2 separate regions of the Homo sapiens genome follow, and region 2 is linked to region 1. Evidence: fine-mapped expression QTL. Tissue or cell type: whole blood. Region 1 holds a variant in brackets; the other region holds the start of a gene. All regions are shown on one strand. Distances are between the middles of the regions.

What was found. PIP is the estimated chance that this variant, and not a neighbour inherited with it, causes the effect.
Region 2: it holds the start of ARFIP1, and the variant in region 1 is fine-mapped to the expression of ARFIP1 in whole blood (INTERVAL, PIP above 0.99).

What each region holds. Positions count from the first base shown.
Region 1 is chr4:152,882,310-152,890,496 of GRCh38, forward strand. It overlaps ARFIP1 (ARF interacting protein 1), which reads left to right. Exons shown (of 9, transcript NM_001025595.3): 7 at 414-571; 8 at 5,824-5,998. Among named protein-coding and RNA genes, the nearest start is that of FHDC1, 50 kb to the right of the region's middle. The variant A/G (reference allele first, on the strand shown) is at 3,355.
Region 2 is chr4:152,775,564-152,783,750 of GRCh38, forward strand. It overlaps ARFIP1 (ARF interacting protein 1), which reads left to right and starts at 4,391. Exons shown (of 9, transcript NM_001025595.3): 1 at 4,391-4,663. It overlaps TIGD4 (tigger transposable element derived 4), which reads right to left and starts at 4,167. Exons shown (of 2, transcript NM_145720.4): 1 at 3,919-4,167. RefSeq lists enhancers at 3,609-3,818, 4,269-4,428, 4,619-4,668.

The DNA of each region.
Region 1 (8,187 bases):
ACTTTGTTTTATGTCTGAAAGTTTTAACCAATTATTACCTAATTTGGCTGTGAAAGTTATAGTTTCTCTGATTAATAATCTGCTCTATTTTTCTTTCCAACAGCTGTGCTTATAGTATAATAGAAACAAAATGTAGAAATGAAAATATTGTTTCTACTACAAAGTAACTTAAAAAAATTATTTAGCTTTTAGGTATGTATCTGAGCTGATGACAATTTTGGTTTATTAGACTTTTTCAGTAATTATATGGCTAGCTGTGATTTCGATTCTTAAAGACGGAAAGGAAAAGTAAAACTGCTACAGCTAGATCTCTATCTAAATCACATATTTTCCCATTAGTGACGTGCTTGAGATTTTTAAGTCACTTTTACTGATTTATTACTGAATAAATTAAGGTGACTTCTTTGTTTTAGGAAGAATTTGGCTATAATGCCGATACCCAGAAACTGCTGGCTAAAAATGGAGAGACTCTTCTTGGGGCCATTAATTTTTTCATTGCTAGTGTGAACACTTTGGTGAATAAAACCATTGAAGATACATTAATGACTGTGAAACAGTATGAAAGTGCCAGGTAAGGTATACATTTTCACTGTGTTGTCTGTTTTACAGATGGCATATAATTCAGTTAATTTTTTGGTTACAAACAACAGAAACCAACTCTGGCCAATATGGGCAGGAAAAAAATGTACTGGAAAGTTATAGGATGCCTCTACAGACCTGGCAGAAAGGGAGAGAACAAGATTCTGGAAACAACCAAGAACCAAAGCCAAGTTAAGCCTCAGAAGAATCTAATTAGAACCCCTATGCTGGGTGCCTCTAGTACTTGATGCTGCCACAGCTACCATAAATAATTTCCTAAATACCCATGAATACTTGCTTCATTGCCTTGAGATTATCTAATTGAGCCTTGGTCATGTGCCCAAACCCTGCCTTCTAGTGAGTAGGGAAATGGAGGATCTCCCAGCTCTGGCTTCTTTAGAAGAGGACAGGGCCCTATGTTCTACCAGGTAGGTATTACATGGTCCTCTATACTCTCGCCTAAATTTACCTTTCATCCTTATTACCACTGCTTCCACAATAGCCAGACCCATACTTTCAGTTTCTATTGAATAAATAAGCTCATTTTGCCTCCATGATTTTTGTTTGTTAGGATATCAGTCATCTTCCATTTATCCAGATTATAACAAGCCTTCAAACCCTTTCAAATTTTACCTTTTATATAAATTAAATATTTGACTTGTATTTTGATAACTGTTCATAATGCAGTGTTTTTATACATCCTATTTTAATGGGTTTTTGTATATCCATATTCATATATATATGTATATATACAGTTTCCCTGTCTCATAACTATCCTGTTAAATGGTGAACAAAATATATATTAATAAATATATTAATAAATATTTTGAAGGGTCTAAAATATGGCAGACCTATAATAGCCTTTTTCACCTTTTGATTCCAGGCCCAATTTTTTCCCCATATGCCCTACCCCTTTTATTTAAGTATCATTCTAGTCCCTTTTGAGGTTTTTTTCTTTTGAGCACTCAAAATTCTTATTTTCCATTATACTTTTTATGCATAGTTGAAGATAAACTTTACCTTTTAGAAGGATAACTTTACTCTTTGGCCTCTTATCCTAGTTTAATGGTATGAGAAATACCTGTAAAAAACTCCAAACTCATCTAGTATTTTTGCAATTGAGTGCTTATTAAATATATATTTCCTTACACTTCAATTAAGTAAAAGCCCAAATCATTTTGAAAAGTTAATTTTTGATGTTTTCACAGGAAGAGATGCTTCTGTCCCATACCATGTTTATTTTGTCATTTTCCATTTAGTATTAAAGTATGAGATTCTTATTGACTTGAAAATGAAGGTCAAACAGCTGTGGTTGTATGGAGGGGTAAGGGTGAGGATAGCTGTTAGTAAGATAGCCTTCCGTGGAAATCTCTTCAATAACATTCTCAGTAATTGGTGTTTCAGTCTCAGTGTAAATCCTTTCATGGAAATTATATTTTTCAAAGGGTTCATTATGTATATGAATTTTAAAATTCATTTATATAAGTTTTACTTGATCCTTTTCTAAATTTTTCTGTTCCTTGTTCATAATGTCCTAATTTGTTCATAATGGTACTGTTTCTTTTATCTCTAATCATTTTAAATATTCATATTTTCTAGTCCTTCTGATTGTTTTAACATGTATGGGTTTTAAAGATGGATATTGTTTTCTTCCAAAAATACCCCCACCACCTCCTAGTTGAGAACTTTGTGAATCTAGTTTCTCTACTTTGCAATTGTCTACCTATCCTGAAATATATTTTCGTTAATAATAATCTCTTTCCCTTCAGCTTTTATTTCTAAACAGTTTATAATTAATTTGTAGAGGAGAAAACACTCTAGAGGTTAAATGGTTTGCTCACTTGTAGTCAATTTCAAAGGCAAAATAAGAACCCATTGGTTCTCTATGGTTCACATTTTATCAGTAGGCCTTATACCTGAGTATTAGTGCCCTAAGTATAATGTGGTATAAGATCTCAGATTATAAAATACAGTATATAGGTTCATTTGGAACTTTTGAACAAAATTATAAATCAAGTTACATGTACTTGGTGGCTGGTTTCTTAAGGGAAACCCTTACACAGCCTCTGTGTGTACTTTAAAAAACAACAACAGTAATGTTGTTTTTGTTTTATGTCATCCCGTAATTTATCCTTTTTTATTCAAATTACAATGTATGATCTTATTCATTAAGCTTAGCTTGGGGTTTGACTTTTCTGTTGTTTATGAAATAGCTGTGGAATTGGCTAGTTGTTAACACTAAAACCTTGCCTACTGATGGATAATAGTCAAAAAGAATCCAAGGTTAAAAGTTTTTCAGTAGCTGAATTTCCTTCTCTGTCAAAGCCAGAATTTACTGACTTTTAGGGCAAGGGTCATCTATTTGATCAGTGCAAAAAGTGGTAATTTAGGCAAATGCCCGAGTGGCCTTTTAATCCTCCCTATTATGCATTGTGTACAAGTATTTCCTAGCCCTCTGGTGCTTCATGTATAGAAAATCTTGTAACAGCCCATTCAACACTTCTCCACAGCAGCACCAACAAGGGAGTCAATTGTGGTCGAGACTTTTCAGATGTGGACACCTGTTCTCTAGAAGTTTTACATAAGCCATAAAGTAACCGTCACTAACTTTGTTGATACGGACTCAGTTCAGACGGGCAACCTTGAAGTGAAGTTGCTTTTTGAAAACTTAGTGAGCTTCTCTTCTTGGTGGTAATGAGCACTGTTAGAGAAGCTATTATGGAAAGTTTTACTTTGGTACCACCTACAAACTCTGAATGTAAAATTAAGAAATAT[A/G]AGGTCAGTATTATAACTTTGAATATGTTTGAGTTAATCACTGTTGTTTAGAAATGCGCTCCAAGGCTATTGAAGGATATTTGTCCTTAGATTAAATCACCATGTATTACTATTTATTTAGTTCTACTTTTTTCTCTTTTATTTCCTATTGTTTTTAGTGTGCTTGCTTCTAGATACCCCTCTTCTAATTTGGCCATAATAATAAGCATTCTAAAGGTATCAGTTATTACCAGGTATCCTGTGTGTTTTATCTATATGAAGTTTTTGTGGAGATTTTTGTTCACATTTATAGATTGAAAAACTGGAGCACAAAGAGATGAAATAACCAGCTCAAGAATAGAGCCAAAAGGCAGAGAGGTCATTCAGCTTGGCTCCTGAACCCATGGATTTAACTAACTAGTTATTATTGCCAAGTCAGTCTTGCCTCCTAAATCTTTTGTATTTGTCTCCTTAGCTCCAATGCCTTTGTCCTGATTCAGTGACTCATTTCTTATATGTCCATCGTTTTCTAATAGGTTTCCTTGCTCCTGATTTTTTAATCATTTATTCTATCCTCCATCTCTTACACTACCACCAGGGTCATCTTTCTATCCTGATACAATCATGTCATTTTTATGTCAGATCAACATTCTTCAGTGGCTTCCCATTACTTCTCCTACTGGATTAAATTTAAACACTTTAACATGGCCTGTAGGGCTGCTTACTTTCAATCCTGCCTGCCTGTCTAATGTTAATTCCTTCCATTGTCATGTTCCAGCTTCAGATTCTGACATACCGAATTCCCAAATGTGTCATTGTATCTTACAAATCTATGCCTTTGTCCATGCTATTCTCTTCAGAATCAGAGTATCCTACTGATTTCTGTATCCCAATTCACCTAGCCAGCTTTTACCATCCTTCAAATTTTAATTATAGTATTTTAATTCTGTCTGAGATACCTTTTCAGATATCTAATTAAATAATTATTCCTCTTGATTTCCATTATACCTTACCCTCATTTATGGTAGTTCTTATTATCTCATTTTGTTGTAATTGTTTACAAGGTTCTCTTCCTCTAGAATGCGAGCTTCTTGAGGATAAACATATCTGTTCATCTTTATAGCTCTACTTTCTAACACAGTGCCTGGAACGTGGAAAGTGCTCACTTGAGAATTGTTGAATGAATCAGTGTATCAGTGAATGAATGAATGGTTCTCTTTTGACCCTGAAAGAGGCCAATTAAATTAAATCTTAACTCATACTGCTAAATTCAGTATGAGTTAAGAATAAATTAGGATCAGTGTGAAGGACTGATGTATTCTTTCTCAAGTCATATATACAATATAGATTATGTTATTTAAAGTATTGTTAATTCCCAGAATAGGAGATGTGAATTATACACCTAATATCTCCAAATAAAGAGCTTTAGTTTTAGGGTATAAGCTTTGTGATTCTGATCTTGACTAAATTAGAGGTCACTTTGCTTCTTCTTTGCTGAGTACCGAATAGTTGAAGCTGCTGGATAAATCACTGTTTAATAAGCAAGATAGTACTATACTTAGACAGGCACTGTGATAGAGCTATTATGAGGAGTTATGGGATCTTGGAGTGATGACAGTGGTGGGGTAACTATTTGAGTTGATGGGGGGAGAATATCAGAGTGAGGCATCTTACAGAACACAGGATGGTAAGTGCTCTACAATAGATACTGTTGTTACATTCTGAATACTGATGTTACAGAAATTCATCTAGAGTTGTGTTGTCAAGTATAGTAGCCACACATGTCTGGTGAGCACTTGAAATGTGGCTAGTCTGAATTGAGATGGGATAGAAGTGTAAAATACACAGTGGATTTCAAAGACTCACTACCCACTCTCCAAATGTAAAGTACCTATGAATAATTCTGTTACATTGATTACATGCCACAATGATTAATATTTTAGATATATTGGGTAAAATGAAATATATTGATAACAGGTGAAATTAATTATTATTTCATTGTAACTACTAGAAAATTTTAAATTACATGTGTTACTCACATTACATTTTTGTTGTGCATTGCTAACCCAGACTTTTTTCAGAACCATTTACACTTCCGTTAGTTTTAGTATGCCATTCTAGAGTCTGCTGTCCTTACCTGCTTTGCCTAATCAGTACTAAGCAATTCACTTGGGGTATTTATTCTACCCTTGATCTTGTTTTGACATTTATTTTTTTTAACTGGTTTTTAGATTTTGGAAATTTTACTTGTCAGTTAATACTGTGCTTTGAGAGAAATAGTTAATGAGATTAACCAGCAGCTTTGTTCTTATTTAAATAGCTCTTTGTTTTTAAAGAAATAATGATTTCAAAAGCGTCAAGTAGAATATGTGTGAGAATTTTATATATTTTATTGTATAGTATGAGACTGAATATTACGTATTTCCAACCCATTTTTTGAACATACTTTACTGTTCTTGTAGTATGCTTCACTTACTCTCTTCTTTCCAGGATTGAATATGATGCATATCGCACTGATTTGGAAGAACTGAATCTTGGACCACGTGACGCAAACACTCTGCCAAAGATTGAGCAGTCACAGCATCTCTTCCAAGCACATAAGGAAAAATATGATAAAATGCGCAATGATGTTTCTGTCAAATTGAAATTTCTAGAAGAAAATAAGGTAAATTCTTTACCTTCTAAGGTCTTTCTGTGGACTTTGAAGTCACCCTAAAGAGAGATAGTCAGTTTTTCTGTTTCTGTTAACTCTCTTGTATGACAATTGCAAGAAGGAATTCCATTTGTAATCAGTGTTTGAGTTTTTAGAAGCATACAAAATATATTTACCTTTCTTTGATAAAAGTTATCAATGCCACCGTCCCAGTCTTTCACATATAACACATGGCAAAAAGTATTTGATGGACAGCCATTGATCTTTGGATTGGCGTTGATAGCAAGTGCTTTAAAAATTGAAATAATGATAGATTATGCTCTGAATATTTTGAAGCTTTTCTATTAATGATAGGTACAGATTTCAGGAAAAGAACTATGGCATTCTTCTCAGCAATTGATAAGTGAAAAATAGCTAAAAGGTCCAGCTTAGGGCTGCAGTTAGCATAACCTAGGAGAAGGAAGCCAAGAGATCCATTTTCCACATTTTTTTCATATGTGAACACATCTAAGGACTAGAGCAACGAGGGCTGAACTGGACCAGCTGTAGGTTTCAGCAGGAAGTGGATTCATATACTAATAGGCTCCTGTGTTTTGGTTTAAGTAAAAGGATGGTTTCTCATGTTTGACATATCTCTATTACTTGCATATTCAGCTTTGTATGCAGGATTGCAGTTCTGGAAATGGGAAATGAGTGAGCATGGTACGGAATAGGTGTAGTGCAGTCCTGAACAGATGGGTCTCACCATTGCACGTTGGTAGTTTTTTCTGTGCATTTCACATCCTGTGAAGTCATGACAGGTCTTCAACTGTACTCTCTTCCAGGTACCCTCTTAAAATTGTTTTTCAGTTCTCTCAGGAAACAGTCATGTTTATATTCTCCTCCATAACATCAAAGGGCATTTTAGTAAACTATAACTGTCAGTATCTTATTGTTTTCTTTAACATTTCCTTAGAAACTCTCATGGCTACTATAAAACCTATAAAATAATATATTTCTTTGGGATCCACCTAGTCCAGCACTTTCACTGACTTGTTTTTAAGCTGCTATGGGTGAAAATTACTCACCAGAAAACATTATAGTGGCAATAAAGGAAACCTCAGCAGAGTTGTTAGAAAAATTGCCTGGCATCATTCAGACAGAGCCCAGTGCAGCCTTCTGGTATTCATTAGCTGAGCACATAAGATTGCATTCATTTTAGTCATATATATATATATATATATATATATATATATATATACACCTATTTTTGTGTGTGTGTGTATATTTATGTGTATATATAAATATATATACACATAAATATATATATACTATATATACATATATATACTATATAGTATATATATGCACTATATATAGTATATATACACTAATATATACTATATAATATATATATGCACTATATATAGTATATATACACTAATATATACTATATATACTATACTATATATACTATATATTATATACTATACTATATACTATATATACTATATATTATATACTATACTATATACTATATATATACTATATATACTATATACTATATATATACTATATATACTATATATACTATATATATACTAATATATAGTGTATGTATACTATATATATACTAATATATAGTGTATGTATACTATACATACACTATATATTTTAGTCATATATACATATTTTAGTCATATATATTTAGTCATATATATAATGGATGTGAATATATCAATATTTAGATAATAGACATTGTACATTTTAAATATAAAAATATTTTTGGCATTCCACCCTATCATCACTACACAATAATACTAAAAGAGGTATGCTAGAAGAATATACGTGTTTGATAGAAAAGTAGACTAACATAGTGAAACATAAGGTTCATGTGATTTAAAGGAAGAGTGAATCAAATGGTAATTGGAAGCCAGATTATACTAAGCCTTGACCACATACAGACTTTGAATTGTGGCCTTGGAATGTGTACACTGAGCAGGGAGGGAAGAAGGAGACACTTTCGTTTACAGAGGGAGGGAAGGAGACACTTTTCATTTATAGAGCCAGGTCGTCTCTATAAATTTTAAATGTCAATCAGATGAATGTTACTTCTGATTTTATCTTGTAAATATTGAAGAATTTTTAAAGTTGAGAGTAGCAGGAAAAAGTCATTTAGAAAGTCTCTTTCTTTCTTAAGGGAAGAAAGAAAATAGAAGCAC
Region 2 (8,187 bases), 110 kb before region 1:
GGACTACTCTCAGCTTCTAGAGGCTTCCCTCAGGTCCTTGTCTGTGGGAAATTGTCATTTCAGCAATGGAGAACATTCCTCCTGTAGAGTCTCTTTCACACTTTGAATCTCTCTGACTTCCTCTACTGCCACAAGCAGGAGAAAACTCTCTGTTCTTAAAGTGCTCACTTGATTAGGTTAGGTCTACCTAGAATATTGCCCTTTTGATTAATTCAGAGTCAATTGATTAGCAACCTTAATTATATCTCCAAAATTCCCTTGCAAGTAACATAACATAATCATGGAAGTAATATCCCATCATGTTCACAGGGAGAGGGAATTATACAAGGTAAGTGTCACTGGAGTTCATCTTAGAATTCCACCTGCTACACGGGACTATTCCCTGCATTGCTATATAATTACAGACAAAATTGAAAATATGCAACAAAAAGGATTCATTCAATAAATTACAAAATATCTACATGCTGAAATACTATTGTGCCACACAAAGAGAATATTTAATGATATGAAAAAATTCCATGATACATTAAGTGAAAAAAGCAAAATATAAAATTATATGTCAACAAATACAACATACACTAAAAATTACATCAGAGCAGAGGCTCATGGTTATTCCTACACAGCTCACTTCCAGCAAACCATAGGGTGTCAGTAGCAATTTGTTAAATAAATGAAGAAATATATATCTACATAGATATAAAGAAAAAAAATACATTGACCAAAATGTTGAATGTTCTCTCTAGGTAAATGAATTATAAATAAGTTCAGTTTTTTCCTCTTTATAGTTAAAAACATTTTTACAACTCTAATGTTCTACCTTTTTTTTCTTCCACAACAGTCATCTTAGAATAATGTTCTACTTTTGCACCAAGTTATTAAAAAAAAAATCAGTATCAGAAAACATAAAGCTGGCATTCTTCCCATTCAGAATCTCTAGGAGTAATGAGTCACTCTCCTTTCATCAGTAGTTTATACCCCTCTGCAGAGAATCAACTACTTTCCAAACTTAAGACAGCACTCACTCATTGTCTTCTACAGATAGATAGCAACTATATCCACTTAATCCTACTTGTACCATTACCCTAAGTAGCAGGAGTTGCTGGTATTCTTGAACTTGCCTGGTATGCAGCAGACAACATATTTCCATAACTCAACTAGAATTGGCCAATTTCCTGGTGTTATAAGAGAATCAAGTAAGTCCAAAGTTCAGTTTCCCAAAAACCATCTTATTTATCATGGGAAAACATGCAAGACAGTAGTATAAAGCAGACTGAAATGGGGGCTCAAATCAAAGGCTGTAAGATCCAAAAACAGGGAAAAATGAATTCTCACAGGGAGGATAAATAATGGGTTCATGACAGAAGTAGCATCTGAACTCAACTGTAAAGGATGGATAGGTACATCACAGGTAAGGAAAAATAGGAAAACATTTCTGCTGATAAGAATAGACAATAAAGCATGGAAGAGGGAAATATGCACTTTGAAGCATATTAAACATTTCTTTGCAACTAAAGTTTCATATCTATGTCTATATTGGTATTTATACCTATCTCTATTAGTTGGCTAAATTAGCACTTTTCCTTCAGGTATATAAGAGAGTGCTCATTTGCAAGATTGAGGCCAGATCTTGGTAAGCCTTTAATGCCAGGATAAAGAATTAGACTTCATTGAGTATGCCACAAATGCCATTCAGGGCTACTAGAGTTCCCCACAAGCCCAATGAATAAATAGCACCTGATTTTTCAAAAGCCAAATAAACAGCCAATAGCAGTGCAAAGTTAAATGAGTAGATAATCTCCATGTCATAAGTATATATGGAAGGCAGCTATTCCCTTTTTTCTTACCTCTCTAAAAATAAATGACAATTCAGAGAAAAGTAGTAATCTTCTATTCTAAACAAAATGAGCAGGCAGGGTCCCCCAAGTTTTAGGGCAAAGGAAGAAAGGAAGAAAAGAAGGGAGGGAGGGAGGAAGGAAGGAAGAAAAAAAGGAAGGAAGGAGGGGAGAAAGGAAAAAAGGAAGGAAGGGAGGGAGGGAGGGAAGGAGGAAAGAAAAAGAGGAAGAAGGAAGGAAGGAGAAGGGAGGGAGACAAGAAGGAAAGGAGGAAAGAAAAAGAGGAAGGAGGGAAAAAAGGAAGAGAGGGAGAGAGGGAAGAGAAAACAAGTCTCCTCTAAGCAGGGCCAGGCTTAAAATGATGTTTTTCAGTTAGTACCAAAAATATTCCCCAATCCAAAGAACGCTGGTTTGCTGCTTCCATTGTCTCAAAGGATGTATAGAATTCCACTATTTTCCATCACCAGCTGAAGTAGTTTCTAGTGTTTTCTTGGAGCCAGACTACATTCTAATTTCCTTCAGGGCAGTGGAAATCATGGAAAGATTAATCCTGTGTATATATAGCCTTGCACAGCGTAATACTGTGGATGAGGATTAATCGTACACAGTACCAGAATTCACTGAAGAGTATCTAACTTGGTTAGCATCTTCACCAAGCAGAAGTTAGCATTAGTTCCAAATCCATCTGAATCTCCATCAAAACCATCAGCAGCTGCCAAGGAAACTATGAACAAACTAAAGCAAGTCTTCACCTTTCCAAAATAAGAAACACTTCAGAGTCTGACAGTCTAATAGTTAGACTAACTTTAGTCAAGCTAAGCATCTCCAAACTCAAGAGACAGCTAGCAGGAATCTTTAAGATAACAGCCAGCAAAAACAATTTAGTATTCATTGTCCACATCATTCAAGCACCGCTGAGTCCTACCGTACACTTCCTCCAAGTCACCCTTCTGAAACCCTAGGAACAACACTTGTACTTAGCTGCAAGTTCTGTAGTTGCTCAGTTCCTACACAATTACAGCAGTAATTAATTTAGATTGGGATTATTTTCTTATAATTGAGAAGACTAATGGTCTCCAAACCAACAAGATGGCTTTGTACAGAAAAATCCACAGTAAGCTATAACAATTGAAGTTACAGTTTGAGTGGGTTGGCATATATATTTGCTCCTTTCTTTTGTTTAAGACAGAACCACTTAAGATAAGAGATTTATGTTTTGGAATTTCAGTACTATTTTTTTAAGAGGTGGTATCCTAGAGAGCTCAATCAATATTGTTATACATTGGAAACATTTATGGTGCCATAGGTGTTTACTATTCACAGATCTGGGGAAGATACCTGCCAGGGATATTTCACTACACTGAAACTCCCTGGAAATCTGTAGAGGTAGAGCTCTGCCTTTGGGCATTAGTCATTAAAAATATCTTGTCAGCTACTGTGACAAGTAAAGGCAGCTGAGAAGTACGGTCTAAAGAAGGGTAAATCTCGCCGTGTGCACAGTTACCCTTCGCATTTCTACAAGTGAAATGGGAGTAAAAATGAGCATTCAAAGCTGTCAAAGGAAAAGCAGTCCAGCAGTTCGAAGGGATATTCTGTGATGGACCAACTGTATGGTACAGTGTGTAAATGAACTTCAGGTCTATCTAGCGCCACGGGGGAGCCACGCTTTCGCACCACTGAGCTCTGGGGATGGGGAGAGTAGTGCAGGTTGGGGCCCCGTTTAGGAAACTACGAAGGGCTCTGAGAGAGCGAATTGTTCAGCAGTTTCCGTGACAGAACAATGATCTATTTAAGAAGTAATGGGGCAAGCAAAGAAAGCAGAGCTCGGTCATCCGGAAAAAGAAAGAGGAGCCGGAAAGAAAAGTATCAAGGAATCTACTGTGAGAGAGCGAGCAAAAAGCAAAAAGCGATCACAAATCCAGAGCAAGTAAGAGCTCAGGGATGCCGGGCCCGGGGGTCTAGCCTTTCTGAAGGGAGAGGGCTCCCCAGGCACGGGGGCAGCGCGAGGCAGCGCCCGCATTCCGTCTGCTGCCTTATCTTCGCATTCTCCCTACCACCCCCACCTTCCCCCCGGGACTGGAATAACCTTCTTCGTGCTCTCCGGTGGCTGAGAAAGCAGCTTTCGCTCTTCTGTGGTAGCGTGGAGGTGAGGTACATCTACCTCCACCCTCCCGGCACCAGCTCACGGTCTGTTGGGGGGGTCCTCCTAACGTGTGAGGCTAGGGTGTGTGAATGAAAAAGAGGGAGGCGGAGGCCTCCTGGAGACCTTCGACCTCTCAAGACCAGGCAGGGGCGCCCTTCCGCAAGCTCCCAGCTCTAGCCGGTGCCTCTGGCCCCGCGCGCATTAGGTCGCTGCCAGAAAATTACCCGGGCAACGACACCGCCGGAGTCCCGGATGTGGTTGCTAGGGCAGCAGAGGGAGGGGCGTAGCCCGCCTCCCGGAGAAGGGCGGAGGGATCCTCGTGGGAGGTGCGCTGACACCACCGAGACGTGGCCGGGCAAGGCCGGATTGAGGGAGAGAGAGGCCGTCCAGGGCCAGGGACAACGCTACTTCCGGTCTCCTCACTTCCGGCTTCGCTGCTCTTGGTTCTGGTTCTGGAGGCTGGGTTGAGAGGTCGCCGGTCCGACTGTCCTCGGCGGTTGGTCAGTGTGAATTTGTGACAGCTGCAGTTGCTCCCCGCCCCCGAGCAGCCGAGGTGCGTGGGGGAAGGGGAAGAAGGAAAAGGTCCGGGTCGCGTTTCCGCTCAGTTTTTGCCAGGGTTGAGGCGATTCCAGAGAGCGGCGGAAAGGATAAGCCTCGACTTAGAAGCTACCGAGTTACCCTAAGAAAGGTGAGGGCGGAGCTGGCTCGCCTGGGAAAAGGCGGGGGAAAGATGGTTTGAGGTGGCTGGTGGGGCGGGCACGTTGCCTACGGGTTCACCGTTCCGAACTTTCACAGGGCACGCCTCTCCTTAGTCTGTGCCGTATCTGCCCAAGTGTTATGCCTTTGGTTTCTTCTGTCCTTCATTCCTTCTGTCCCTCTGAGTGTGCCCCCGAAACAGTCGAGTGAAGGTGTAGGACCGGCCCTTGCAGGGAGGCACTCTCTTGGCTTTGCATACATTGGGTGGGAAAAGGAGTTGCAGGATCCAGAATCCGGACCTTTCTTGACAAAGTGTCGGAGTGGGCCACCTTCAGGCTTGCTGTCCAACCCTCATTTCTCCCCTCTTCTCCCTGCATCCCCAGCTTCCTCTCTCCCGCAGTGGGAGGAAGGGAGATAGTGACAGTCCCTCTGAGAGATTCATCTGGCAGTGGTGCAGAGAGGAGTCTTGCCTGTGAAATGTCCCAAGCCTGACTAAGGAATGCTGGAGTTTTGGAAAGGGAGTTGTTCGATTGTCTTCTGCTCCGTTCCTGTTTGCCAAGTTACTACTGTTTACGTGTCTAGGAAAAGGAAATAATTTTTTAAAAACAGTTTTTAGATGCTAGACGTTTTTCCCTTTTACTTTATTTTGTTATTACTTCCTTTGTTTTGTTCTTACCTTCCTCTTGAGCCCTTTGATTTCAAAAAGTTTACACTTTATACTTCCTGCAGATCCTTTGGCCACTCTTAGGATTTCTGTCCCCCGCCCCTACCCTGTTTTCTCCTAAAGTATAAAATTCATCTAACTACATTATTATTTGATAAGGAAAAGCCGGAAGAGATCCAGAACTTCGCATAAACTTTTGCTTTCATACTTTCACCTGTAAGGGTGTGTTCATGTTTGCCATTTAATTAACTTAATTGGCATAGAAATGTGCACCAGAAATGGTTACCTTAAGTCAGCCGTCTGTTAAGGCTTCAGGAATTGGCCTTTTCTTTTTTCTTTTTTTTTTTTTTTTTTTGAGACAGAGTCTCACTCTGTCGCCCAGGCTGGAGTGCATTGGCACGATCTCGGCTCACCGCAACGTCCACCTCCCAGGCTCAAGCTTTTCTCCTGTCTCAGCCTTCTGAGTAGCTGGGTTTACAGGTAGGCGCCACTACCGCCTAGCTAATTTTTGTATTTTTAGTAGAGACGGGGTTTCACCGTGTTGGCCAGGCTGGTCTCAAACTCCTGACCTCAAATGATCCTCCCTCCTCGGCCTCCCAAAGTGTTGGGATTACAGGCGTGAGCCACCGCGCCCGGCCGAATTGGCCATTTCATTGCTGTTCTCTCAGAGCGGCTACAGATTACTATATTTTACTGCTGCCTTAATTCTGCTTTTCTTTCGTTTGTCCTGTGGTGTTTTTTGTTTTGTTTTCCTTGCTTAGCATGACCCACGTCTTCTCCCAACTACCAAGTCTAACACACTTTTATCTGAGAAAAGAGAAAAGATTTCTAATGTATTTTGTGGATTAAATCCCTGCCTCAGTTACTTTAGTTTCTTTCCAAATTGATAAACTGGTTTTCCTTGGATTATGATTTGCCTTAATCCTGGATGATGACTTGGGGTTCATGGCCTAAGGGTCAACAACTTTCAGGGGTCTTCCTCATTCCCACCCCTGAAATTATATGCAGTTTTGTTTGAGTGAATTTTTTTCCCCCCTGGGGAAAGTGTCCATTGTTTTTATCAAATTCTCAAAGGAGATATACAGCCTCTTGATAGATTAAAACCACCACTTAGGCAGTGTCTTGTTGAAGTTAGTGAAAACAGGTTTTGTGTGTGTATGTGTGTGTGTGTTTTCCACTTAGGCAGTATCTTGTTGAAGTTAGTGAAAACAGGTGTGTATGTGTGTGTGCTTTCCCAAACTGTGCAAAGGAGATATATAGCTTCTTGATAGATTAAAACCACCACTTAGGCAGTGTCTTGTTGAAGTTAGTGAAAACAGGTAGGGGTGTGTGTGTGTGTGTGTGTGTGTGTGTGTGTGTGTTTTCCCAAACTGTAAATTGTTTGCTTTGGGACCAAGGAAAGGAGAATGCAGGGATTCTTCTAGTTTGATATTGAAATCTCTCCTTTAAAACATTAGTGTTTCTAAATTCCTTCCTAGACTTACAGAAGGAAATGAGGCTGCCCACTTTATTTCCTGATTTGTGGTTTTGAGGTTTCTTCTTAGGGATAGCTGTTTGTGGTCCATGCTCTGGAGATCCAGTGGATTTACAAACTGATGTGCCTATCTTTAATATGTATTAAATATCACCAACCAACTAGGCACAGTTCAGAGTAAAAAATTTAAATTCTAGTTGTATTTTGCTTTCATTTTCTTAATTTTTTTTGCTTGAGGCATGTACCTTAGGATTTGATTTGGCTTTGCTATGAAAAACAAACAAGATGTTTCAGTGGTGTGGTCCTTTGGAATGTTGTTGCTTATCTTGACATCCCCTTTCCCTCCATTCTGTATGAGATATTTTAATGATTGTTTCTCTCTTGTGAATACGTTAGTATCCTTCCAAGCTTAATGTAAGTTTTAGAGTACATATTTGAACTTACTGATTTGGTTGTGAATTATTTGTTGATTGAGGGTTGCAGTTCTAAAGGTCTGATACTTTTTTTTTTAGAATGTTAACTTGAAGAGACCTATACAGCTCATCATAGTCTATCATGAGTATCCAGTTTCTTCTGCTCACAGAATAAGTTTTCCTCTGTCTAGCAACCTCACTTGGGGGAGCAGTCAACATAAGTTTATAGAGAATAGCGTATGCTAGGCTGGGCACGGTGCCTCACACCTGTAATCCCAACACTTTGGGAGGCTGTGGCGGGTGGATCACTTGATGTCAGGAGTTCAAAACCTGGCCAACATGGTGAAACCCCATCTCTCCTAAAAATAAAAAAATTAGCCGGGTGTGTGTTGCATGCCTGTAGTCCCAGCTACTTGGGAGGGGCTGAGGCAGGAGAATCGCTTGAACCCAGGAGGCGGAGGCTGCAGTAAGCCAAGATCCCACCACTTCACTCCAGCCTGGCCAACAGAGTGAGACTCCATCTCAAAAACAACATCAACAACAGACTAGCTTATGCTAAATTAGTTTCCTTTTAAGGTAATGACAAATTCGGAAGATATTTTATATCTAACACTGTAACAGTTACATTTATTTGCTTACCATGTGCATTAAGCTAAGTGCTTTACATTATTATCTCAAATGATAACCTTATAAAGTGGCTAAAGTCCTCATTTCTGTAGGTGAAGAAAATAAAGCTGAATGATTAACTGAAGCTAAAGTAGTCTGCTCAGAATTGCGCTGGTGGAGCCAGTGCATGGCTCCACCTACGTTGTCTGACTCTAGACTACTACTGTAGACAACTTCTACCATGCGTCCATTATGTCCTTTTTGAAATGAGTTGGAGATATATCACCTGACTTTCTATCAGGTGTTGAGAAAAGGTTGTTTCCTTTCTTAATCTTCAGTGGATGAACATCTGGTTGAAT